Linked DNA regions of Homo sapiens. The protein of the gene in region 2 interacts with the protein of the main gene of each other region in a pairwise test. Each region holds a gene or a part of one and is shown on either strand. Other genes may lie near its edges.

The links.
Region 1: the proteins of PAK2 (region 2) and RHOJ interact in binary tests that used the Homo sapiens proteins (3 or more experiments, as listed by UniProt).
Region 3: the proteins of PAK2 (region 2) and NCK1 interact in binary tests that used the Homo sapiens proteins (3 or more experiments, as listed by UniProt).
Region 4: the proteins of PAK2 (region 2) and ARHGEF6 interact in binary tests that used the Homo sapiens proteins (3 or more experiments, as listed by UniProt).

The regions. Positions count from the first base shown.
Region 1 is NC_000014.9:63,207,415-63,214,444, reverse strand, and holds part of RHOJ (rho-related GTP-binding protein RhoJ), read right to left. Parts: intron 1-7,030.
Region 2 is NC_000003.12:196,798,839-196,805,868, reverse strand, and holds part of PAK2 (serine/threonine-protein kinase PAK 2), read right to left. Parts: intron 3,943-7,030; coding exon 3,842-3,942; intron 2,853-3,841; coding exon 2,705-2,852; intron 518-2,704; coding exon 486-517; intron 1-485. UniProt on the Homo sapiens protein: Serine/threonine protein kinase that plays a role in a variety of different signaling pathways including cytoskeleton regulation, cell motility, cell cycle progression, apoptosis or proliferation.
Region 3 is NC_000003.12:136,921,182-136,928,211, reverse strand, and holds part of NCK1 (SH2/SH3 adapter protein NCK1), read right to left. Parts: intron 229-7,030; 5' UTR 211-228; coding exon 1-210. UniProt on the Homo sapiens protein: Adapter protein which associates with tyrosine-phosphorylated growth factor receptors, such as KDR and PDGFRB, or their cellular substrates. Maintains low levels of EIF2S1 phosphorylation by promoting its dephosphorylation by PP1.
Region 4 is NC_000023.11:136,742,904-136,749,933, reverse strand, and holds part of ARHGEF6 (rho guanine nucleotide exchange factor 6), read left to right. Parts: intron 1-2,341; coding exon 2,342-2,426; intron 2,427-4,586; coding exon 4,587-4,711; intron 4,712-6,147; coding exon 6,148-6,349; intron 6,350-7,030. UniProt on the Homo sapiens protein: Acts as a RAC1 guanine nucleotide exchange factor (GEF).

The DNA.
Region 1 (7,030 bases), on a different chromosome or scaffold from region 2:
TGGATGGTTGACTATAGAATTGCTCCTTTTGGCTTGATTCATAGGCACCATTACAGCATAAAGAAGGGTTTTCTGAACCTACTAAGTCACATTAGCTGAAACTATATACATTTGTGATATCTAAATGGGTTTGAACTCTAAAACAGCAGTGTCACAAGTTCTACCTAATTAGAAATTTCTATGAAGCTTATTGACATTCATATTCACAGCTCTGTCTCTAAATGGGTCTGGTGTAGAAGCCCTTACATGGACCCAAGAATCTGCATTTTTAACAAGTAAGCTTTTCTTATGGCCAGGCAAGTCTGGGAAATATAGGTATGTCATATGTAGTGGAATAAATAGGGAGTTAAACATGGTGCTAAGGCAGTTGATATGTTTATCTGTGCGTATTGTATTTGGTATAAGCAATTTCAACTTAATGACTGTGGTGAAGATGACTAAGTGTCTATTAAAGTCTGTTTGTCCCTTCTTTGGGCACATCGCTGGCCTTCCTTGTGATAATGTGTGGCCTACAGTTTAAGTTCTCTCCAGTGAAATGTGAACAGAAGTGATGCATGCCACCTGTCAGCCTGGCCCATACCACCACTCCCTACCCTTACTCCTCCATAGTCTTTCATCTTCTAGTGTCTAGATACAGAGCACCACAAAGCCCTAGATGATGGCAGGGTACCAAGATGGAAAAAAGTAGATCCCTGAATGACTACATGGAACAGAACTATCTCACCAACCTGAAGACCTGCCAAGGTCTCTTATATGACCAAAAGCAGGATTCTACCCAGCAATCCTATTACTGGGTATATATCCAAAAGAAAATATATCATTATGCCAAAAAGACACATGAACTTACATGTTCATTGCAGTATTATTCACAATGGCAAAGACATGGAATCAACATAGGTGCCCATCAATGGTGGATTGGATAAAGAAAATGTGGTACATATACAACACAGAATCCTATGTAGCCATTAAAAAGAATGAAATCATGTCTTTTGCAGCAACATGGATGCAGCTGGAGGCCATTATCCTAAGCAAAGTAACATAGAAACAGAAAACCAAATACTACGTTAGTTCTCACTTATAAGTGGGAGGTAGACACTGGGTACACATGGACAGGAAGATGGCAACAATAGATACTGAGGACCACTAGTTGGGAAGGGAAGGAAGAGGGCAAGGGTCAAAAAACTAACTATTGGGTATTGTACTCACCACCTGGGTGACAAGATCATTCATATCCTAAATGTCAGCATCATGCAATATACCCAGATAACAAACCTGCACATGTACCCTCTAAATCTAAAATACATGTTGCAATTATGTAAGAAAATAGGATTCTAATAGTTTGAACCCTTATATATTTTAGCCTATCTGTTACAGCATCTTAGCTTACATAGTAGTATGGTGCCATCATTACAAAAACCTAAAAATACATGTGCTGTTGGCTTAGCTGTTAGGTGGCAGATGGTGACAAAACAGAGCAGGTTGGAAAGATGATCTGTGTTATACTGTGGCAAAACATTTTGTAAAACTATTGTTTGTGAAACCTGGAAGGTAAAGCTACTTCCCACTGAGTCCATAGCACTCTATGAAGAGACCGGAAAATGACAGAATGTTAGTATGTATTAATTGTTATTTTACATATTTAGCAAGGTGTTATAAGAAAGGGAAGAGATGAATTGGTTGTTTTTAAAGCTGAGATTGATAGAACACAGATTTTCATGGGTTCAAAGAGTTAGAAAATGATTGTTTCTGGATTCCATTAATAGATGATACTATCAGGATTGTCATCAGAATTCTATTATTGCAATGTGTCTCCCATTCTTCCCTTTCTGAAAGGGAGTTTGAATGTTTTGATTATCCCATTCCTGTCCCACCACCGCATGGGGCAAATTGTGTATATGGGTAGATAATTTGTCTTTTATTGGATCACAAGGAATCACGTTTAGATCAAATGAACAGAATCATGCATCACTTAACAGATGCTGGTCTTTGACACAGTTGCAGTGCCAGAATGCAACTCTAGGTGGTCCTTCTGGGGAAAAGAGTGAGTTTTTTTTACATGTGGGAAAAAATGTGCAAGGATATTTGGTGGCCACAGAGTCTGATGCAGGCAGAGATTGCTAGCTTCCATCAAAATCCATTCTTCCCTCTTTTGGGCACAGAGGGGGGCTTTCCCTCCAGCCTCCTTTACAGTGAGGCATGGCCTTGTGACTAAATAAACTCCTATGCAGTGTGATTGAAAACGATGTTTGTCACTTCCAGGCCTGGCCCATAAAACTTTCCATTCAAGTTTCTCCATGCTGTTTCTCATTCAGCTGTGTGGATGCAGATAACTGAAATCCTAGGGGATGTCAGAGTTACCAGATGTGAGAAGCCTGAGACATTAAATGACCACATGGAAGAAAGCAGCCCTACTGACTTGAATACCTGCTCAGGAGCATCACATGAGCAAGGAATACCTTGCCATTGAGTTAATCCCTTACATGTTTGGTTTACTTGTTAATAGCAGGTCCTAACTAACAGTGGCTCTTTTATTGTTATTAGCTATACACTGCTCATATTGTTTACTATTCCATGGCCTCCACTTACCCCATTACAAGCAGTTTAGCCTTGAGGGAAATAGAGTAGTATCTTTGTGCCGGGAATTGTTCATCAGGAAAGTTGAGAAAATGATAGCACCTTATGATAAAGAAGGGTTGGCTTTTTGGTACAAGGTACAAAAATACAGTTAGATGGAATAAAATCTAGTATTCAGTAGCACAACAGAGTGACTATAGTTAACAATAATTTATTGTATATTTCAAAAGAACTAGAAGAGTAGATTTAGAATGTTCCCAACACAAAGTAATGATGGATGTTTGAGGTTATGGATATACCATTTACCCAGATTTAATCATTACCCATTATATGCCTATATCAAAACATCACATATACTCTATAAGTAAATAAGAACAACCATTAATGTATCCATAATTTTTTTTTAGAGATGAAGTCTTGCTCTGTTGCCCAGGTTGGAGTGCAGTCGCATGATCATGGCTCATTATAACTTTGAACTTCTAGGCTCAAGGGATCCTTGTGCGTTGGCTTCCCAAAGCACTGGGATTACAGATATGAGAGACTCTCGGGTGTCTTCAGAAAGAGCAAAAGAGAAACTTATGAATAAATTTTCCCAAATGAGCAGAACTATGTCACAACCTTTTATAAACCTGGGACTTTATTTTTATTCACTATTTATTATAATTATGTTATTTTTTCCCCCTGTGGATTGGACCTGTTTCCCACTCCCTGCTCTGGCCATTAAGGTTATGACTGTCTACCTTGGGCTGATCACCATTTAACTAAGTGGAAAAAGTTAGAACTGACTTTCAGCTTTCTGTAAAAACAACTTCCTTTTACATCTCAATCAGCTGATAGAGTAACTGGATTTCTCTTCTTTCCATGAATTGTGTTAATTTCCTGCATAGGCAGCCTGGGTTTGCAAATAGTGGCTTCATGTGGTTTTCCAAATTTGATGGCTTTCAACAAAGAAGCTCTAGGAGGGTGGGTGATAGAAGAAAGATTCACAGACAAAATAATACAGAGGATGGTGGAAATGGTGAACATCGTAAAGAGGTTTCAGCTGGAATGAGCTTATTTTACACACCTATGTACCCCGACATATAAACCATGTACACAATCTAACTCAACATACAATCTAAATTCAAAATGGAGCTCTTATCCTTATGCTATATGTCAAGTGAAACATTAATCGGTAAGAATATTTTACCAGTGAGGGGTCTGCTACAAAACTCAAAACTAAAGATAGGATGGGGGAAGAAATGCAATTCTTCCATGGTAAGCTGTGAAAGCTCTAAAGGTTGTTGGGACGCGTTGAGTCATCCCTGGAAGGGAGTAAGGAGCAGAGCCCAGGGTTGTTTCTTAGGCACACTTGTAATAAACAAGAGTGACTTTTCCCACCTTCATCCCACTGCTCCTACCCTTTAGACCTAGCCGTCAGCCGAACTTAGGGTTACTCTGAAATATGCTCTGTATATTAGAACTAGAGGAGTTTGAGTGAGGCACCCAAAATGTATGTCAGCTTTTGAACATAATGTAGATGAAGGAATCCCAAGTGATATTTACACATTATATAGTTAAGCTATTCAGTAGATGTGACACTGGCCACTTAGGTCAAGAAAATTCAATGCTGGCTGGGCGTGGTGGTTCACGCCTGTAATCCCAGCACTTTGGGAGGCTGAGGTGGGCAGATCACGAGGTCAAGAGATCAAGACCATCCTGGCCAACATGGTGAAACCCCGTCTTTACTAAAAATAGAAAAAAATTAGCTGGGCGTGGTGGCACGTGCCTATTGTCCCAGCTACTTGGGAGGCTAAGGCAGGAGAATCGCTTGAATCTGGGAGGCAGAGGTTACAGTGAGCTGAGATTGTGCCACTGCACTCTAGCCTGGTGACAGAGTGAGACTCTGTCTCAAGAAAAAAAAAAAAAGAAAAAAAAGGAAAAAAAAAGAAAATTCAATGCTATATTACAGTTACAGTGGGGATAAAATGATTATTTAAAATATGAATAAAATAGTTCAGAAATATAATAAATATAATAAACATTTTTGTATGTTCATTCCTAAACAGATATCTATTGGACAAGCAATTTGTTCATTTATTCATCAAAGTTTTAATGGACCAGAAACTATCTAAGTGTTGGAAGGACTAAGATTGCAAAGACATAGTAATTCATTTATTCAGTTGAGAATAATCTGAGTTGAGAGTCTGTTGAGTGTCTATAATATGCAGGACTTTGTTTTTTGAAGCTGGAGATAGCAAATACATATATAATATCAGGTAGTATTAACTATTATAATGAAAGATGTGGCAAGATAGGTTAAAGAGAGAAAGAGAGTGTGTGTGTGTGCAAGCACACATGCATTAAATAATGTGGTCAATTGAAGCTAGGGGGGATCTAGCGGAATAGTATGAGACTGGGGAAAAAGCAAGTACAAACTCTTCAAGGGAAGGAGTTGGGTGTGCTTGAGGAATAACAAGATGGTGAGTGTGGCTAAAGCAAAAACACTGATGAGGAGAGTGTTAAGAGATGAGATTGGAGAGATAACAGGGACTGAGTCATGGAGTGCATCATATACAACATAATATAGGGTTGGGTCTGAGTGTTAAGGGAAGTGATTGGAGAAGTTGGGGTTTGGGACAGTCCCTCTGCCAGCTATGTGGAGAATTGATGATAGGGGGCAAGATTGGAAGTAGGGAATTGGGAATTGATTATAGTAGTTTGGATGAGAGATGATGGTGGCTTGGACAAGAATGAAGGCAATGAAGACGGTGATAAGTGATCAGGTTTGGGATGTATTTTGAATGTTGAGCTGATTGGTAGGAGGAAGGGATGATAACTAATGGTTTAAATGGAAAGGGAGGGGAATGTTGTCAAAGGAAGAAAGGAGTCAATACCAAAGTTTTTGTTTTCAGAAACCGGGTGGAAAAGAGTGGTCATGTACATACATGGGGAAGCCTAGGGGAAGAGTAGCTTGGGGAAGTTAAAAAATTCAGTTTGGACAGGTTAAGAATGAGATGCCTATTAGATATTCAAATAGTCGGATATATGAATCTGAGTCTCAGAGGGTTTTGATGATGGAGCTACAAGTTTTGCCGTTATCAGGATATGAATGATGTTTAAAGTTACAAAACTAGATACAATCAAGCATACCCTAAGTGTAAATAAAGAAGAGGACCCAGGGACTGAACACTGAGGTTTCAGTGTTTCCGAACATTTGGTGGTTGGGAAGACAGAGGGGAGGTGGCATTGGAGATGGAGAAAGATTTGCTGTTGAGTGGAAACAAAACCAGGAGAATGTGGCATCCCAGAAACCAAGCCAAGAAAATGTTTTAGGAAGGAGGGTAATGAACCATAAAAAAAGCTTCCAAGAGATCAAGAGGAGGACCTAGAATTGACTGTTGGATTTCACAGGACATGAAAGACACAGCTCCTTTCCCTTAAGGGGTTCCCAGCACAGCAGAGATGGGAAAATAAGGAAGCATATAAATTGTTATACAATAGTGGAAGATCCTAGAGATGTAAACAAATTTGTGAAACTGGATTGGAGATGGAACAGGGAATTATTCTTGGGGAGTCAAGGAAAGCTACATGGAGCAGATGTGCTTTTGGATTTTGGTAGGTAGGAGGTAGGGATACATCAGAATTCGTAGAACTTTAAAAATTGTTTTTTGTAGCTGGTCGTTGATTTTTCCTGCAAAAATAAACTCATTCAAAATAATTTTGCGTAGTTTTTACTCATGCAAAACTGATATTTCCCCTCCCAATTTAATATCCTATTACTATTACCTCATATAAACATATTGTTAATTATCAGTAAACATGGTAACTATTTTATGAAGAAAATACATACACTCCATCCTACCTTACTCTTCTAAAGGATACTCTTGTAATTACATTTTTCCTTCTTGTAGTCTTTATCTTTTAATTACATTTTCATTCCTTTTCCTGGCTGTATGCAAGTATCGAGACTGTATTCTTAATAGCTACCATGTACCTAACTCTTATCACACATGAGGCACTGTTCTAAGAACTTTACATATGTTAATCACTTTGTTCTCACACACAATTCTAATACCTTAATTGTCCCTGCTTCTCATTTGTGATAACTGAGGCACAGAGAGGTTAAGTAACTTGCTCAAGGCCACAAAGTAAATGACAGAGCCAGTATTAGAACCGGGCTGTCTGACTTCAGAGATCACCATCTTGCACAGTAGGTTGTATTTCCATCCTTACTATTTTATCTCTACTTTTCTGGGTTGGGCAGTTATTAGTAAAAAGTCTTCAATGGATAGGCTCTCTATGACTTAAATTATAGCTTCTAAAGTCTCAGCACTCAACTGCAGGTTGTCATTTTAAAGTAGGCCAGTAGGACCCAGGAATTAGATACTGGATCCAAATGGAGAAGAGGGCATTTAGTTTTTTACAATTGATTGTAGATTCTCACGTGACTGCCTAAGGATTTATGTTCAACCAG
Region 2 (7,030 bases):
CTCCAGGAGACTGTTTCCTCCCAATTGAGAAACTGCAAATAAAACGACTGTTTCCAAAAACTGACTGTGTTTATGCGATAACTTAAGTTTCAGATGACTCTGAAGACTGACAAGGTTCAACTGTTCAGCACCTTTCCACAGTCTATATTCAGTAAAATAGTACCAGAAGGAAAACTGAGGGATGGAGAGGAAAATATATGCTAGCAAGTTCTTTGTGTTCACGTTTGTATATGTTAACATTACCAAAACTAACTAAACTGTTCTGAAGGTCATTATAAATTTTAGTTACATTAAGTATCACATCAAGGAATTTCTATTTAATACGGCTTCTTCAACTAATCAGGTGGCTAGCTAAAAACACCTATTGAGTAGTTATTTACCTCTGATGGCTGTAATTTATTTTAGAAAGCAAAATAAAAACTGAGATTTGTCTTGGGTAACCTAAATTAGAACAAGAGATACAAGAAATAATATAATTAACTTACTGCTGGTGTTCCAGAAGGAAAGCCATCTTTCTCTGAATATGAAACAAAACATAACATTAGCAATTCAAGAAACAGCACTTTTATATGATAAAAGGAAAAAAAAAAAGCAGAGAAAGTGAAATGTTCTTAAACTGATTTCAAGTTGAATTAACTCTTGAGAAAAATGAACACGCAAGTAGTCAAATAAGAATTTATATAAGACCAAGGTAAGAAATCTGAAATCTACATGAAACTATAAATTTAGTAAAAATCAGTGAATTATATATTTAAAATGGGTGAATTGTATTGCATGTAAATTATACCTCAATAAAGCTATCAAAATTTAGTTTGAAAGTATACCTATCAATCTGTATTTATTAAAACAAAACAAATTTATTGATAAAGATACTTTCTCCAGAAAACTGCTGACTGAGGAACTTAATGCAACAATTAAGACAATGACAATTGTGCAAAGTAAAATTCTGACATTGTTTTGTTTTTCTTTTAAAAATGCCCAGAGACATACATATATGTGTGTGTGTGTGTATATGTGTGTGTGTATATATATATATATATGTGTATATATATATATATATATCACACACACACACACATATCACATATTACATACGCACAGGCCGGGCGCGGTGGCTCATGCCTGTAATCCTAGCACTTTGGGAGGCCGAGAGACAGGCAGATCACCTGAGGTTGGGAGTTCAAGACCAGCCTGACCAACATGGAGAAACCCAGTCTCTACTAAAAATACAAAATTAGCCAGGTGTGGCGGCGCATGCTTGTAATCTCAGCTACTCAGGAGGCTGAGGCAGGAGAATTGCTTGAACCCGGGAGGCGGGGGTTCTGGCAAGCCGAGATTGTGCCACTGCACTCCAGCCTGGGCAACAGAGTAAACTCCAGCTCAAAAACAAAACAAAACACACACACGCACGCGCGTGCGCACACACATATATGTATGTATGTGTACTAGGTGAAAATAAGCTACCATTTTGTGGTCAAACATTGGTTTTTCAAAAAAATTACTAATTTACACACAGACTTACTGGTTGATAGAAAAGTTCTAGGAGCAAGTGTGACCTTTTCCTAACGGTGTACTAGACTCAACAAAAAAAGGTCAAGATCACTTGAAAAAGATTTCTATTTCTCCCTTGCACATGGCCTTTGTTTCTGTGAGGATGCAAACAGTAAGTAAAATCAATTAAAACCACATGTACGATTTTAGCTCCATCATATTGCTTTTGAAAACCACATGTATGACTTCAGAGACAGACAAACATATTGAAAAATGACATCCTGAGGATGTAGTGAGCAAAATCTAAACTGAGGGAAACAGGACAAATGATCTTGTTTCTGTAATAAATAAACGTCAAGAAAAGACAGCATGAACCAGTGTGTGGGAGGGGAAGCCTAAAGATCAAAAGAGATTCAAGAGATGTATCAACCAACTGCGTTGTATGAACTTTATTCTGATCTTTATTTGAACAAAAACTATTTTTAAAAATCCACTACACCAACTCTTACACTATATACCAATTCACTGGTTCTCTCATAGGTTAACGGTATATCTCAGATACTGAGCAACTTGGAAAACAAAGTACATCAAACCCCATTTCCATCCAGCTATATTCATCCAGAAAGTAAAATTTGCATTACTGTGACTATGTAGATGATATTCCAGATATTCCATTTCTGAGGTATAAATCCTTTTAGTTCTAACGCTTCTTTCGTATATGATTTATCTGTTTTATATATTAAAATACATATATTCTATTATCTGCACACTTGCGAGTTTCAATTTTTTGAGTGGACCTAAACATTTTTTAGTTCAACCTCCTCTTGTCCCGCTAACAATAAATGTGTTTCTAGTATGAACATGTCTATCAACCAGCGTCTTTTCCTTTGATTGCTGGAAGTCATTTAAAAGCAGTGAAGAGTGAAAAATGAAAACAAAAACACAGCAATGAGGAGAAAAAACCAAATAAACAAAAAGCCAAAATATCCATCAACTCCCGTTTCTGGCAAACCTATGAGATTACTATAATTCACAGATCCAAATTATGCTTCAGAACTGCCCTGGATCAGTCTACAAAAGGTAGAATCTATCCAGGGAAAAACCGTTATCAACAAGAACCATAGTTTAGCTTTTCATTTTTCCAGGAGTAATCTTTTTATCTAGAAGTGCTTCACAAATCTCCATCTGATCCAGCCTTATGCCACTCTCTTACCAGGAGGAGTAAAGCTCAGATATTTCTGCTTCACTGTGTTGGAGTCGTAGAACTTTAGGACATCCAGCACAGCCTGAGGATTCTTCTTTTGCTCTAGTTTGGTGATATTGGAGGTCTGTAGTAATCGAGCCCACTGTTCTGGCATGCCCTAACAAGAAGATATTCAGAAATTAGTTATGGTTTAAATTGATGCAATAAAATTAATTTCCAGAGATAAATGACAAAATACACAAAACAAACCAATCTTTTGAGTGTAGGTTTGAGTAAATTTTAAAAGATCTCATTTTCTAAAGGTCTATTTTTTCTTTTTTCTTTTTTTGAGACAGAGTCTCACTCTGTCACCCAGGCTGGAGTGCAGTCGTGCGAGATCTCGGCTCACTGCAAGCTCCACCTCCCGGGTTCAGGCCATTCTCCTGCCTCAGCCTCCAGAGTGGCTGGGACTACAGGTGCCCGCCACCACGCCTGGCTAATTTTTTGTATTTTTAGTAGAGACGGGGTTTCACCATGTTAGCCAGGATAGTTTCAATCTCCTGACCTCGTGATCCACCCGCCTCGGCCTCCCAAAGTGCTGGGATTACACAGGCGTGAGCCACCGCGCCCGGCCTAGGTCTATTTTTTCTAAGTCTGTTTTGCATAACTATAATTAATAGGCTCTGCTCTCTAGGAAAACGATATATCCAACCACTAACACTTTTATAAAAAGCAAAAAGCAGTAAGAATTCATAGTTAACGTATAGATAGAAATGTTAATTTCCCTTTTTTTGAGACGGAGTTTCACTCTTCTTGCCCAGGCTGGAGTGCAATGGCACAGTCTCTGTTCACTGCAACCTCCATCTCCGAGGTTCAAATGATTCCCCTGCCTCAGCCTCCTGAGTAGTTGGAATTACAGGCATACACCCCCACGCTTGGCTAATTTTCTTGTATTTTTAGTAGGGATGGGGTTTCACCATGTTGGCCACACTGGTCTCGAACTCCTGACCTCAAATGATCTGCCAGCCTTGGCCTCCCAAAGTGCTGGGATTACAGGCGTGTGCCACCGCACCTGGCCTGAAATGTTAATTTCAAATTTAATAATGAAGGAAAATGTTTGAGTGCTATTTTAAACGTTATAAATGGGCCCGAACTAGGTTAACTTACAGTGAATTCTCCAGTAACAGCATCAAAGCCAACATGGATGGTGTGCTCAAAATCAGATGGAGGAGAAATTTCTGGCCGTTCCTTTTCTTTCTTTTTACTTCCTAGGGGGCATTAGAAAAAAAGAGAAAGAATCAGCCTATTTAAACAAGACTAGTAAAGGCACTTATAATTTTATTTTTTGTCTTTTGTTTTTTTAAATGGAGTTTCGCTCTTGTTGCCCAGGCTGGAGTGCAGTGGTGCAATCTCAGCTGACTGCAACCTCTGCTTCCCGGGTTCAAGCCATCCTCCTGCCTCAGTCTCCCAAGTAGCTGGGATTACAGGTGCCCACCACCATGCCCGGCTAATTTTTGTATTTTTAGTAGAGACAGGGTTTCATCATGTTGATCAGGCTGGTCTCAAACTCCTGATCCACCTGCCTTGGCCTCCCAAAGTGCTGAGATTACAGATGTGAGCCACCGCATGCCCGGCATATTATGTTTATATTTTTCCTAAAACATATTAGGATCAAAGTTATTCTAGAAAACACACTAGAATCAAAGTTATTCTAGAAAAGATTTCCCCTAAAAACTGGCTGATAGGAAACTAGTAAATGAAGTAAAGCAGACTGTCCTGCCATAGAGTAGGGCTGGACACAACCAAACACTGAGGAGGCACATGGAGTGACCAACGGCAGGCCTGAGTAACAGAGCACAGGCAGAAGAGACACCCCCTTCGGGCACCAGCTCTCTCACAAAGGGCTACATCTCAGATGCTGAGCAATGTGGACAGCAAACACAGCAAACCCCATTTCCACTCAGCTACATTCATCAGGAAGTCAGATTTGCATTACTGTGACTCCGCAGATAATACACACTGTCAAGACAAGTAGTTGACAAAACCACCTCTCCTTTTTTGTGCAAGCATAATCCTTTTTTAGTGGAGTTACTAATTGCCACATTTTAAAACTATGCAGTTTTTCTATGGTCCGATTGTAAATTATTTCTGCAACATTTCTGCCACACACCTATCAATAATGTTCTCTGTGAACTCCAACACATCAGTTCCTTCCCCCTACCCCCTCCCTCTCAGCTCCTCCTGCTCTAATCTGCAGTAGCTCATGCCTACGCTTCCTGCAGTTACCGTCCATGACATCCCTTCACTCCTGCCCTGTATGTGCTGGAATCTATTTTCTGGATCTTACGTTTTCCTCTTGATTTATCCCTTTAGTGATAGTTCTTCACTAATTTTATATATATATAAGTTGGAACCCTCAGCATTTCCAGTGTTGCCATTTAGAAGGCCAGCGCCATTTTGGTTCCTGTTTGGAGCCACTGTTGAAAGTCAATTGTCTGTACACGTGTGAGTCTATCTCTGAAGGCTCTGCTCTGTTGCAATTATCTGTTTGTCTGCCTTTATGCCACTATCAGACTGCCTTGATTATTTTATTGCCATTTTGTAATACGCATTGAAACTATGTCACATAAGTCTTCTTTTTCTTTTGTCAAAGCTGTTTGGGTAATCGAGGTCCTCTGCATTTCCCTATTAATTTTAGAATAAGCTTATTAATTTCTACAGAAAGCCTGTTGGAATTCTGACTAGAATTGGAATGAATGTACATACAGATGAATTTTAAGGAGAATTTCTTTCTTTCTTTCTTTTTCTTTTTTAACAGGGAGTCTCATTCTGTCGCCCAGGCTGGAGTGCAGTGGCGTGATCTCAGCTCACTGCAACCTCTGCCTCCCGGGTTCAAGCAATTCTCCTACCTCAGCCTCCTGAGGAGCTGGGATTACAGGCATGCACCATCATACCAGGCTGATTTTTATAATTTCTGGTAGAGATGGGGTTTCACCATGTTGGCCAGGCTGGTCTCAAACTCCTGGCCTCAAGCGATCCATCTGCTTTGGCTTGCCAAAGTGCTGGGATTACAGACATGAGCCACTGCACCTGGCTGAGAATTTATTTCTTGATTTCTTAACAACACCGAGTTTTCTGATCCATGAAAACAGCAAATCTTTTCATTTATTTAGGTCTTTAAAAATTTCTCTCAGCAGTGTTTGCAGTTGTCTTCATCCGTTCGGTACGCTTTATCAGAATACCACTGCCTATGCAATTGATTAATATAAACATTAGAAGCTGGCTGCGAGCAGTAGCTCATGCCTGTAATCCTGGCACTTTGGGAGACTGAGGTGGGCAGATCACATAAGGCCAGGAGTTCAAGACCCATCTGGCCAACATGGCAAAACACTGTATCTAAAATGCAAACTTCAGCCGAGTATAGCGGCACAAGAATTGCTTGAACCCAGGAGGTGGAGGCTGCAGTGAGCCGAGATTGTGTCACTGCACTCCCCAGCCTGAGTCACAGCGTGAGACTGCCTCAAAAAAATAAAAGTTCATTTGGCTCACAGTTCTCCTGGAGGCTGGAAAGTCCTCCAGGTCAAGGACCAAGAAGCCACACCTGGTGAGGGTCCTTCTTGTTGTGTCATAACGTAGCCGAAGGCATCACATTGCAAGAAAGAGAGCAGGAGAGGGCCAAACTGGCTTTTATAAGCAACTCGCATCCACAATAAAGACATGAGTCCATCCGTGAGCACTCGCGTCGCCTCTTGAAGGTCCCATGTCTCAACACTCTCTTACTGGGGCTTCAGTTTCTAACACATGAACTCTGGGGGACACTTAGAAACAGAGCAGTAGTTATCAGTGCAGAGCGCACACTGTTTCATCAGATTTCTGCCTCGGTATTTCCTGGTTTTGATACTATTGCAAATGGCAGTTTTAAAATTCCCTTTTTAATCATTCATTGCAGCCATAAAGAAACACAGTTGTTTCTTGAATACTAATCTTATATCCTGAAACCTTATTACACTTACTTCCACTAGTATTTTTGTAAATATACAATTTTGCTACAAAAATTCAATCATGTTGTCGGTGAATAAAATCAAGTTTACTTCTTTCCAATCTGGATTCCTTTTATTCGTTTTCTTAAAAAAAATTTTTTTTTGCCTTACTACATTAGCTAGACCCTTCAGTACATTGTTGAATAAAAGTGGATGAAGAGAAATTTTATTTTTCCTGATCTAAGAGGAAAAACTGTCATTCTTTTTACCCTTAAGTTTAATGCCAATGGTAGGTTTTTAAAAGATGTCCTTTATGAGGCTAAAGGGCATTCTCTTCTATTCCAAGTTTGCTGAACACTTCTATCAGCAATGGATA
Region 3 (7,030 bases), about 60 Mb from region 2:
GTTTTTCACAATAGATGCTTTCCGAGCACTGTTTTTCCTTTCCACATAGTTAGAAGGCACAAAACCTGTTTTATTCATGGAATTTCGAACTCGCCACCAGGACTTAGAATCATCCAGAAGCCATAATCTCTCATTCTTCTTGATGTCCAACTCTTGTTCTTGTTGGGCCACATAATCAAATTTGGCTACTACCACCACTTCTTCTGCCATCTTTCAGCAGCTTCAGCACTGTAAACACATGGAAAATATTTTTATGTAAGGTTGAGGTAGTATTAGTTCACATGCTTTTCAAAAGAGACACACCTAAAAATCTAAAGACATAAAGATGAAAAGTAAAAAATATGGAAAAAAATACATGAGGCAAATAGTAATTTAAAGAGACTGTGACTGTATGGCCGTGCGCAGTGGCTCATGCCTGTAATCCCAGCACTTTGGGAGGCCAAGGCAGGCAGATCACTTGAGGTTGAGTTCGAGACCAGCTTGGCCAACATGGTGAAACCCCATCTGTACTAAAATACAAAAATTAGCTGGGCGTGATGGTGCACACCCGTAGTCCCAGCTACTCAGGAGGCTGAGGCATGGGAATAGCTTGAACCTGGGAGGCGAAGGTTGCAGTGAGCCGATATCGCACCACTGCACTCCAGCCTGGCGACAGAGGGAGAATCTGTCTCAATCAATCAATCAACCAATCAATAAAGAGACTGGTGTTGCTCTATTAGTATCAAACAAAACTTAAAGGGCAAAAACCATTACTAGCAATAAAGTTCACTACCCAATGAAAAATGTTCTACTCAATTACAATATCTAAACTTCTATGTACCTAGTAACAAGATAGTTTCAAAATATGTTGACAGAACCACAAGGAGATCTTGACAAACCCATTACCACAGAGGACAATTTTTAACATATTATCAGAGTAACAAAACAAAGAAATAAAAACGGCCAGGCCTGGTGGCACACACCTGTAATCCCAGCACTTCGGGAGGCCGAGGCTGGTGGATCACCTGAGGTCAGGAATGCAAGACCAGCCTGGCCAACATGGTGAAACCCCATCTCTACTAAAAATACAAAAATTAGCTAGGTATGGTGGCGCACACTTGGAATCCCAGCTACTCAGGAGGCTGAGGCAGGAGAATCCCTTGAACCTGGGAGGCGGAGGTTGCAGTTAGCCAAGATCGTGCCACTGCACTCCAGGCCTGGGTGACACAGCCAGACTTGGTCTCAAAAAAATAAATAAATAAATACAAACATTATTAAGGCTAGAGAAGAACTCATATCACAACCAGCAAGTCTGATTTAATAGACATATACAGAATATTGCTTCCAAATAGAAAACAAATGAAACACATACAAAAAGCAATCAAATGCCAGGCCATAAAGAATGTCTCAATGTTCACGTAACTGATATCCTACAACCATATTCTCCAACAACCATAACAAAAAGATAACTTTTGAAATACCACGTTTGGAAACTTCTAAAAACTAATGAATCTAAGAAGAAATCATATTGAATTTTGAAAATACTTAGAAGTAAATAATTTTAAAAACTATACATCGAACTCTGTGGGATGTAGCAAGAGGAGTGTATATAGACAGATTTTTAGTTTTAAATAGTAACATTAAAAAACAAAAAGAGTGGCCGGGCGCGGTGGCTCATGCCTGTAATCCCAGCACTTCAGGAGGCTGAGGCGGGTGAATCACAAGTTCAGGAGATCGAGACCATCCTGGCTAACACGGTAAAACCCTGTCTCTACTAAAAATACAAAAAAATTAGACAGGCGTGGTGGCGGGTGCCTGTAGTCCCAGCTACTTGGGACGCTGAGGCAGGAGAATGGCTTGAACCCGGGAGGCGGGGCTTGCAGTGAGCCGAGATCGCGCCACTGCACTCCAGCCTGGGCCGCAGAGCGAGACTCTGTATCAAAAAATAATAATAATAATAATAATAAAATTTAAAATAAAATTTTAAAAAGAGCTAAAAATAAATTAATGAACTGAGTATCTATCTTAAGCAGTTAGAAAAGTTAAAGAAACATTAGAAAAACAAATCCAACTAGAAAATGAGCAAAAAAACATGAAGAGGCATTCACTGAAGATTTACAGATGGCAAATAAGCAGATGAAAAGGTATTCATCATTAGCTATTAAAGAAATGCAAATTAAAACCACACTGAGATGTCACTACATACGCTTGTCAGAATGGCTAAGAGTGGTAATACCAAATGCTGACAAGGGTAAGTTGAAATTGGATCACACGTATACTGCTGATGAGAATGTAAAATGGTACAGATACTCCGCAAAATTGTCTGACAGTTTCTCATAAAACTAAACATGCAACTACCATACAAGCTAGCAACTGCACCCCTGGGTATTTATCCCAGAGAAATGAAAATTTATGTTCACATTTTACATGAATGTTAACAGCAACTTTATTTCTAACAGTCAAAAACCGGAAACCACCCAGATGTCCTTCAACAGGCAAATAATTAAACAAACTGGTACGTTCATACCAAAAAGAACAATTGATGCACAAAACGACCTGGATGAATCTCCAGGGAATTATAACTGCTCAGTGAAAAAAGCCAATCTCAAAGGTTAACTATATGACTCCATTTATATAACACTCTCAAAATGACAAAATATGGAAATTAGAAACAGATTAGTAGTTGCCAGGGTTAACGGGGCAGCAGGAACAGGAGGGAAGTAAGTATGACTATAAAAGGGCAATATGAAGAAATTTTGTAATATTATTGTGATATTGTACTATACTTCTGCCAGATGTATTGCCACTGGAGGAAAGCATACACTGGATCTCGCAATAAGTTCTAAAGTTTCTCAGAATTGCATGTGGATCTATAATGATCTCAAAATAAAAAGTTTAATTAAAATAAAAACTGAAAGAGAAAACACAAATAGTCAAAAAGTATTCAAAAGATCCTGAATATCTTTATAATTAAAGAAATGAAAACTAAACTGAAATACCACACTTTACCTATCAGGGTGACAAAAGTATTACCAATATTATCTAGTCCTCCCCAGAATGTACAAAAATAGCATTCTACTACATTACTGGTATAATAACTAAAAATTTATATAATGCTTTTAAGTTTTATAATTATGGCACTTTTCAACATTTACAGAAGAGAATAGTATAATGAATCCTATACCTATCACCCAATTTTATCAATATTATGCCTTGTGGTTCAGCTATCCCCCTAATTTTTGGTGGGGGAACTGGAATCCCATGATTTCATTAAGCACTAACAGATTAAAAACCCATACCCCTCAAAAATGAACAAATCAAGGGCTCCTGACCTTTTCCCTTTTTTAACCCATATATGCCGGAGGTTGCAATTTCTTGTGTGAAAAATCAGACCTTGGTGACGACCTTGAGCATGATATAAATAACTCTCACAAGCTTAGCGTTCCAATAATGGAACACTAGGCACAAATGGGTTAAGCCATGGACCTCCCCTCCTCCTGCCTAATGGCAGTGTGGTGAAACATAGAACCTCTACTCACAATGTTTCTGATGCATAAAAATATATAAGATTGCAAACAAGTCAATTATACTAAAATTAAATTATCAGTATATTTTCAAAAGCTCATTTTGAAAAGGTGTTCCTTTATTAAGAACTCCTGCAACACTTATTTCATCTAATGCTAATATTCAATTTTTGCTAAGTGTATTTTTTTAAACATTCTTACAGTTGGTGTGAACTGGGATCCAAACTAAGTCGATATATTGCACTTAAGCTAACATGTTTTAAGTCTCTGACACTGTTCTCTTTCCCCACTCTATGTCATTTATTTAAGAAGCTGGCTTCACTTGTCCTGTAGCATTTCCCACATCGTGAATTTGGCTAGTGTATATTTTCATGGTGTTCCTCTATCCCCCCTATCTCCTATAAACTGGTAATTATTTCTAGAGGCTTTACTTTTTCTAGGTTGTTTTGTCATTGTTGCAAGAATAATTCGTTAAGTATTCTTGTGTACTTGTTATTGCCATTTATTAGGAGGCACATTATGTCTGCCTGAACCATTTTCTGTGATGTTAAGACTGAATGGTAGATTTGTAGCACTGAACTGATTTATCCATTATTATAAAGTTCCCCCATCAAACCTCTACCCAATGGTTTTACCTGCCACTGATGATCACTGCCTAGATCAACTATTTCAATAATGATGATGTGCTAGCTCTACCTGCTTTCAGAAACTGTGATTATTCTCAAAGGAAAATTTTGCTTATTGTTCTATTACCCTAAAACATAAAACCTTACAGAAAAGGTAGAATATATACTTCTGTGTGGTTATGACACCAACTGGACGTAGAGTTAGGCTCACTTGTTTTCATTTTTTGAAGATCACTTTATTTTCCCTTTTTAAAATGTAATTGTTTCATAATTATGTAAAACATTTGGATGGTTCTAAAAGCTAAACTATCAAGCAAGGTAGATGTTTAAATATCAAACATGTTTGAACATTATGTTTAATATTGTTTATATGAATGTTTAAACATTAAATATGCTTAAATATCAAACATATTTAAAACATTTAGAGAGGTCTTCTTCCATACCTTCTCTTTTCTCTCCCCTCTCCCATCCACCCCACTGGACAGCCATTTATTTATTTATTTATTTATTTATTTATTTATTTGAGACGGAGTCTCGCACTGCACTGTCACCCAGGCTGGAGTGCAGTGGAGCGACCCTGGCTCACTGCAACCTCCGCCTCCCAGGTTCATGGCATTCTCCTGCCTCAGCCTCCGAGTAGCCGGGACTACAGGTGCCCGCCACCATGCCCGGCTAATTTTTTTGTATTTTTAGTGGAGACGGGGTTTCACTGTGTTAGCCAGGATGGTTTCGATCTCCTGACCTCGTGATCCGCCTGCCTCGGCCTCCCAAAGTGCTGGGATTACAGGCGTGAGCCACCGCGCCCGGCCTGGACAGCTATTTATTTGTTTTGGTTTATGTTTCTATTTTTTTTTAAATAATTTAAGGAAAGTATTCAAGAAAAATATATAAGAAAATTGAAAATTCTAATTTTTATCTACCCCCACAACAAAACATACACACACACATGCACACAGGCGCGCACACACACACACACATACACATAGGCATAGACTATATTGCCTGAATCTTTTCATTTTCAGTTTAACAATCTATCCTTAAGATCATTCCACAGCAGCACATGAGACTTCCTTTACTAATACATCTACTACTTCTAACAATTGCAGAGTGCGTCATCATTATGTAAGTAGCACTTTCTTCAACTAGACCTTACTGATGGTCAATGGGTTGTTTGTAATTTTCTGGGATTAAATAGTGCTGCAATGAACAGCCTCATACATGTGTCATTTTGATTTTCTGTTAGTGTACCTTTGGGTTAGAATCATAGAAGAATGCTGAGTTACAGCTAAAGTTTGTATAATTTTGTGAGATACTGCTAAATTCTGTATTCATAAACTATTTTTAAAAACTCCTAACAATATATCAGTGATTATTTCCCCACAGCCTTGCCAACAAACTATGTTGTCAATCTTTTGGATTTTTGCCAATCTAATAGGGGAGAAATAGTATTTCAGAGTTGTAATTTGTATTTCTCTTATTACAGTGATTTCTTTTCCCATATTTAAGGGACATTTACATTTGTTTTTCTGTGTAAAGTGCTTGTTCATATCTTTTCCCCATATCCTAGAATAATGACTCCAACTCCATCAAGTTCCTTACCTGAAAAGGCTCCACATGGCCAGAATTTACCGTTTGTTCCAGCCAAAACCTGGTGATAGGCAGATGGTCACCTGAACCCCCATTTAGAGCAGTTACCTTAGAAAGCTTGAAATTATAAATCCTTTCTCTGTCCCTTTGTGACTTAAATCTTCTACCATCAAGAACTATCTTCCCAAGGACCTGAGAACTACCTCTTTGGAATGCAAACAATCAAAAAGATAACTTTCACTTTTGTTCCCAGTCCCTGGCGAGAGGGTAAGGGCCAAACATTGGTGGGCCTAATTTGTACCACCACCTCCTGTCATAAATAATAAGTTTGTTTCTCTTCCAGATAAATGCCAATAACAAACCCAGATGGCCTACTCACATGGACCACCTATTGCCCTTAAAAACCACTCAGTGGCCGGGCGCGGTGGCTCACGCCTGTAATCCCAGCACTTTGGGAGGCCGAGGCAGGCAGATCACGAGGTCAGGAAACTAAGACCATCCTGGCCAACATGGTGAAACCCCGTCTCTACTAAAATACAATAAAATTAGCTGGGCGTGGTGGTGCGTGCCTGTAGTCCCAGCTACTCAGGAGACTGAGGCAGGGGAATTGCTTGAGTCTGGGAGGCGGAGACTGCAGTGAGCTGAGATCACGCCACTGCACTCCAGCCTGGTGACAGAGACAGACTCCGTCTCAAAACAAAACAAAAAAACCATCTTTCTTTCCCTTAGCAGTGTCTTTCCCTTAGCATACTCAACCTTTAAAAAAGTCTCTTCCCCTTTTGTTTTGGCAAAAGTGAGTTGAGTTCACACTGGACACTCTTCCCTACTGCAATAGTTACTGAATAAAATCTGTCCTTACCATTTTAACTAGTGTCCAGTTTATCTTCGACATCTATAATTCTAGTTATGGACCAACACAAGTACTGGGCTCTCCCAAATTGGACATGCATAGAATATCCAAAGAAGCATCACAAAGGCACTAAGAAATGAAGTACAATATAAACACCACTCAAGCCCCACACATCCCTGCATAAAGCAAAGATGCAAATACCACAGCAAAAGTTTAGAAAATGAAACCAATATTGGAACTACTGCCCACAGTTCCTCCGCTTCCTAGATCCTATGTCTTACTTTTTCTTGCTTTACCCTTCATTTTGCTGGAGCACGTCCTCTAGTTGTTTCCTGAGTTAAAAATATATTGGAATTAAATTTTTTAGAATGCATATCTGAAAGTGATTTTGTTCTCTCATACATGACTGGTAGTTTGGCTATCTATATACAGGGGAGTTACTGTTTAATGGGTACAGAGTTTAA
Region 4 (7,030 bases), on a different chromosome or scaffold from region 2:
AATATCATTCAATTTAGGACTTAGAAGGTATAGTGTGGTGAAGGGTGTTTGTGGTTGTATCTGATTCTCCAGCTACTCTGAAATAATAATGCTTAGGCGTTGCTTTCTCTAGCAGTTCCCAGAGGCTTCTTCCAACTCCTTCCTCTGTAGTTTCTAGTGCCTCAGAATAGGCTTGCAGCAAGAACAGTGTCCATGGATAAACTTGAGTATATTGGGGTTTTCTCAAAAGAGAACCGAGTACAGTTCAGGAAACTTCCCTCAAGCAGATGCAATGACTCTTCTTGATGCACATTTCATTTTCTGATTAGTTTATTTATTTTCAAAATCAGTCAAGTACTTGTACAAGTGAATAATACCAGTGTTGCCATGTATAGGCATTTAATAACCCTGGATAAGGAACAACTAAAACCAGAGGGAGAGGTTTTTTATCACAACTTTTGCTCTCATGCCTTATTCTGCTAATATTTAACTTCTGCTTATTATTTTAGATCTACTCATCTCTACCACACCCACCCAAAACATGTATCCACATGCACACACACATGCACACTCCCATTAGGACTGATGGGCTAAAAACAAGTGATTTTTTTTGCTTTGCTACTATTTTGGCATACATGTCATTAACATTTTCCCAGTTGATCAGTTCTAAGGGAGACTCAATAAGTCTGAAATCCCCGGAGATACTAGACACTCTCTCTAGTCTATTGCCTCTTGTTCACCCAGGCTTTGACAAACTAAAACAAAACTCTTGTCAATGTATTTCTGGAAAAGTTTGAATTTTATATTGTAGCATTCAGAAATATATTTGGAATGTGTTGTTGTTTAACTCTTTAGTAATATTAGCATTACTCTTTTACCAGAAATATATTAATGTCTCATTTTTAGATGCATCTGGGCTTTTTGGTCATTTTAACTTTGAATGCAAAATATTCATTGATTAAATGAATAAAGCAGTGAATCCTAGAATAGGCAGACTTGTGTAGGTTTGCATTTGCATGTATCTTTATTGACCCCCCAAAACGTGAAAAATTGATATTATATATTTTCACTCTAAAAACAGATTATAGGTTTTCAAGAACATGTACAAAAAAGATAGAAATTTGTCTTGATATGGTTCCCAGAAAATATGCAGCTTAAAAATGGAACAAATGGCTCTACCTAATGGGAAGACAGACCCTTTAAAATCCTATGCCCATTACCAATCATGTCCCATATGAAAAGGTACATTTTATTTCCATCACCACATTTGGGGAAAAAATGATGCAATCTGTTTTCTTTAAGAGACTTCTAGACATCCTGGAACAAAATGTTTTTAGAAGGGGCATTTCCATCCAGAAGGTGGGCATCTGGTTACCTTCAGATATGCATACTTACATTGTTGGCTGGCAAATTAATAGATTGTACCTGTGCATGAGAACACTTCTAATTTCAAATATACATATTTGAGACTCAATATATTTTAACACACTGACTACATTTCAAAGGTAACAGGTAAATTGTATTGAAAACAACATCTGATTGGTATCTTCACTGGGGACAATAGCATATCAGATTGACAGTTGACTGGTAAAGTGAAATGTATTTCCTTAATGTGTTTTTTGCCAAGAGTTGAGTAGTATTAGACAGGCCAGAGGTCATATTTGGGAAAGTCATCTAAAGCCAGGAAGAGCCCATAGGCCCAGGCAGGCAAATACTTGAATTCATGATGAGCTGAGAGGGGCAAGGTCAAACAGCAGAAACAGAACTGAAGCTGGGAGCAAAAGGCAGACCTGGGCAGAAAGTTTGGGCAACATGGAATTGGGATCCTAGGCAGTTGGGATGCAGCGGGTGGCAGTTGGGAGGAAGGAGAGCAGAGAAAAAGGCACTTTTGACAGTGACTCAACTAGGCACAGCTAATAAACTGTACAGATGCAACCATGTCAAAAAGGCTCCACCTCCTTATTTATGGACTGTCGAGGACATTATGTAGGTGATGGGCATTGATTGTAACCCATGCATATGAGCTTCCTGTAACTGGGCTGAAACTATTGATACATTCAGGCCAGAAGAGTGGGTCTGAGTATGCACTGTTTATTTCCTGGTGGGCGCTGCCTTCTCAGCTTGGCTCTCATTTCCCATTACTGCTTTGCTCTGACTCACTGATGGCCTGCCACATGTCATTAGGCGGCTCAACTGCTGCTCTCATTTCTCCCAAAGGTATATGGAGGTTTGTGTCTTGGCTTCTACACTTTTTTTTTTTTTTTTTTTTTCCGGAGAGCTGGAGGAAGTGGCCTTTTGATAGTTTTGTTTGTTGAGTTGAATACTTGTAGTGTCTTACGGTTTCAATTTTCCTTTCTCATAGATATTTGATCCTGATGACCTTTATTCAGGGGTCAATTTCTCCAAGGTACTGAGTACTCTTTTAGCTGTCAACAAAGCAACAGAAGGTAAGCCGGGCTTGTGATTTATATGTTCTGGGTGACATTTTTGAATCCATGTGTTTGTGATTACCCTAGGAGCCAACTCTGGCCAGGATTGTTCTCGTGATGCAAATTTTCCCCTTGCTCCCCCAAATACACCCCAACAAATGTCAAATGCTTGAATTTTTCATGGCTTAGGATTTAAAATATACCTATCATAGATGTTATTCTAATGCCCTTAATATAATGATAAGAACTAAGAAACTATTCCATTCAAAGCTCTGAATCACCAACTGAGTATAACAAAACAGAGAAGAAAAAGGAAAGACCAGTTCCCTTTTTCATAGAGTTTACAAAATACAGCCGTCACTTCCCTTTCCCCACTAGAGACATATTTTTCTCATTGTTTTATGTATGCCTTTGTCCATGTAAAGGAACCCCTCAGTAGCCTTGCACCAAAAATGAAATCTTGGGGTCATAGGGAGTGAAAATAATATCTTTTATTTAAATGTTTAACACCTACCACACTAGAGGTATTAAATATAAATGCTAGTAAATGTGAAGAAAATGATGATACACTTAGAATGTAGCTTCACTCCTTCCCTGGTATATTTTACCAACAGCTGAATAGTAATAATCATACTTAAAATGCTTTGAGCTCTTGCCCTGGATCTAGGCTGTCATAAGAGCCACAGGTGATCTCATCCAATCCTTGAAACAACACTGGGGGTAGGTATTATTATTATTAGGTCCATATTACAGATAAGGAAAGTCAGGCCAACAGTTGCCCAACTAGAAAGTTAGTCGCTGAGTTGGGATTCAGACCCACATCTGAATGACTACAGAGCCCTTATGCCCAAGCACGAGGCTTGCTGCTCAAACTGTTGTAGAGTCAAGAGGCTGTGTGCCCAGCATCGCCAGGTGCTACAAAAAATGTCAAAGCTATGGTCCCTGCCTTTGAGAAAATTACTGTCTATTTAAGGAGACTCAACTTACCCACGTGAAACAATTAGAGGACAAGAGCAGACAATATAATCAAGTGCCAAATAGGTTAGAGCATCTAGGAAGCTATCGAGTAATTATAGTTTTTGTCAAAAGAGCTGTATATAATAGCAATACAAGTAAAAATACTTCTCCAAAGTTGTTCTTTTGCTATTTGGAAAAAAAAATGCTTTTGAGCTATTGCAAGGCGTATAGCTGAAAGTACAGCTAATTCAAGTAACTATATTTAACACACATGACAACTATCCAGTTCTAGTCAGGGAGGATCGTGTAATTCTAACATTATGCCACACAAATTATACGTTCCTTTGCCAAACTCTCCTAGCAAGTTTTACAGTCTCTTCCCTTGCCACAGATATTTATAAAATACAAGGAGGTGAAAGTTAAAACCCACAGCATCAAGGAAATTACTTGGATACTGAGCTTGTCGCCTAGGGAATGTTTGGGCTTTAGACTTTTGCAGTTTATATCTTTTAAAAATAAATGGAGAGGAAAAGAACCCTTATTGAAATTTGTCAAGAAGCCAGCTCCTCTCTTTTGTATACTCTCAACAAACTGAAAACATCCAGCTCAGCTCTGGCCTGGTCGAATTTCACAAGGTTTCAAGGAAGAGAAGACTCTTGAATCTGATTGTTAAAAAAATTATTCTAGTATCAAGATTACATCTTTCCCAAACACATCTTCTCTTTCACTCTCATTCTCCACCCTGCCCCACACACATCAGGGAGATTTTACATCATATATGCCACACATATTGTTACGTGTGAGTAAGAAATGAGCCACTGAGTTATGGGCCAAAAAACAAAGAGAGAAATTTGAAATATTTCAAAGTAATAAGAGCCACAAACAGCTGTTTGGTACCCAATATAGTTCTGCCTTGGATAACAGGGCATACTGTTGCAACTGGTTCAGGAGGGAAGAGTTGTAGGGAAATGGTTAAGAGAAAATGTGGTTCTGTCGCTGTTTTTCATTCTACTGGAGCACGATGGCCAGTAAGGTTAAGAACAGGAAGTTGGCCACCAAAAAGGGAAGGGGGATTGAAATACACTTGGCATGTTCATAATGATAACAGTTAGAATTACAGCCAGGATGCCTCTGATAGTATCCTGAGAAAGATAATGTTATGCGGTAGATGTTTTTCTGATCTGAGTGGTTCCTTTAACATGCCTTTTCCTCTTTTCACAGATCAGCTATCAGAAAGACCATGTGGACGTTCCTCTTCTCTTAGTGCTGCTAATACTTCTCAGACAAACCCACAGGGAGCAGTTTCTAGCACAGTTTCAGGGCTGCAAAGGCAGTCAAAGACAGTGGTAAGTATAGTCCCCAATTCTCCGTCTGTTTTAAAATCCATAAAATTAGATTGATATCCTAGTTGCATCTCCATATGTGGTGAGACAGCCATCCGGGTTGTTTTGGGCATCACTGAGAAAACTAATTATAAACCGAGCACCAATTCAGGCTGGCCCGAAGGAGCAAATCAAAGGCATGTGGTGGGGCAAAAATCCGGATTGAAGCTCCAGCTCTGTCCCTTACGAGAATTAGGCAAGTCACTTAACTGAGAATGCTATGCAAATGGAAGTCATTATGGCTACTTTCTGATGGCAGTTTGCTGTTAATTTCCCTATCCCTTGTTTTATTAGAACTAAATAGTGCCTGACACATAGTAGGCAATCAATAAATATTGATTAGTATCCTCATTATTATTGCCATTTTTATTTTTCTCTTTCCATTCCTAATGAGGAAGGCTTGATTTTAAATTTCAGTCTATGATGAGCTTCTATATTAGGATCTCCCAGTTGCCTTTTCACTTGCTCTTATTGGGAGCTTTTATTTGGGAGGAAATGCCTCATCTTCTGCTCTTTGGGTGAAACCTTTATTTCCTGTCAAAAGCCACCCACTTGCAGTAAGACATTATGACCTATTACTTCCAAAGCACTTGAGCATGTGGTTCTTAACTTTTTTGGATCACAGATCCCTTTGAAAGGCTGATGAACACTATGTCTCTACACCCCTGGTACCCTCTCAAATTGTATACAAAAGCCCATGTGTATGAACTTATTTAGACAAAAATATGTTGTGCTCATCAGATTCTCTAAAGGGTCTGTGACCCTCAAAAAGGAAGTCCAGTTTATACATGACAGATTAAGAATTCCTGACTTAATATATCCATGTAATAAAACTGCAGTTGTACCCCCTAAATCTATAAAAATAAAAAAATGGAAAAAAGAATTCCTGACTTAGGCAACTATGGGTTATTTGATCTTTGCATATAAATAAGTCTTAGCCAAATTAAGATATCCTTAGTAATTAGGAGATGGGAGGCAGATTTTATGGAGGGTAGGTTAGTACATCTTGGTTATATAATTATGTGGACTGTTTGTGTGTTGAGTAGAGGCAGGGTGGAATAGCTTATCCAGGGTGGAATAGCTTATCACTCTACTTTGTTATCTGGCTTAGTTAAATAGATAATCTTTAGATAATGGGGAGGGGTGTGGAGAGAAAAATGAAAGCTATGACCCACTTCAAAATACAGATTCTCACAAATGCCAAAGTTTACATACTGTTTTGAGGGATTTATTAATCCCTCTGAGACCCATTCATGGATTCCTAAGTTAAAAACTCAGGACTGAGATGGATCTGGGGTTTTGTCTTTGCTTCCTCCACTTTATTTGCCTATATCCATATCATTTCTACCCCTGCCTTATTTAGATGAGTGCTTAATCTGGTGTGGCTTTTGTTTCTCTAGGAGATGACGGAAAATGGAAGTCATCAGTTGATAGTAAAAGCAAGATTCAACTTTAAGCAGACTAATGAGGATGAACTGTCAGTTTGTAAGGGGGACATCATTTACGTCACACGAGTTGAAGAAGGAGGCTGGTGGGAAGGCACATTAAATGGGAGAACAGGCTGGTTCCCCAGTAATTATGTCCGTGAAATTAAATCCAGTGGTAAGTGAAGTTTTTAAAAGGCTTTTTGATTGTGACTCTTGTACTTTCTTGGTATTCTTACTGAAAATTGTGTAGTTTTAATTGGTTAACAGAAGCTGTTTATACTTGTATGTGTATGCCAAAAATAAGAGTAGAACAGAACTGGGAAAAATCTGTGATTAGATATTTTGAAACAAATTGTATTTAGATTACATTAAGGCAGCAGAAAAATAAAAAAAGCAAAGGAATTCAAAGCTCAGACAACTGGTCCACCCTAACTGTATCCCTTTATGTCTACTAATTCTAGCCCATGTAATATAGTACATAGTCCTTCTCACCACTCTAAAACTTACCATGGCAGAATCCAATAATAAGAGAGGCCATGTGCTAACTTCCTTTTTTTAGCCTTAAGCCCTGTAAGCAGACCTGAGACTAAATGCCTCAGACATGAGAGATAATAATGATAGGGCTGCAGGAAGCTGTCTGGCCGCTTTGATGCTGAACAAGATTGCCCTTAACTCACTGAATACTGCTAGCTGTTTACCTTTTTTTTGTAACAATAGCCAGAGAATGAAATCGAATTGCTCTTCAGTAGTCTTTTCTTCTCTCTCTCTCTTTTTTTAATTATTATTTTTAGACAGGGTCTCACTCTGTTGCCCAGGCAGAGTGCAGTGGCTATCACAACTCACTGCAGCCTGGACC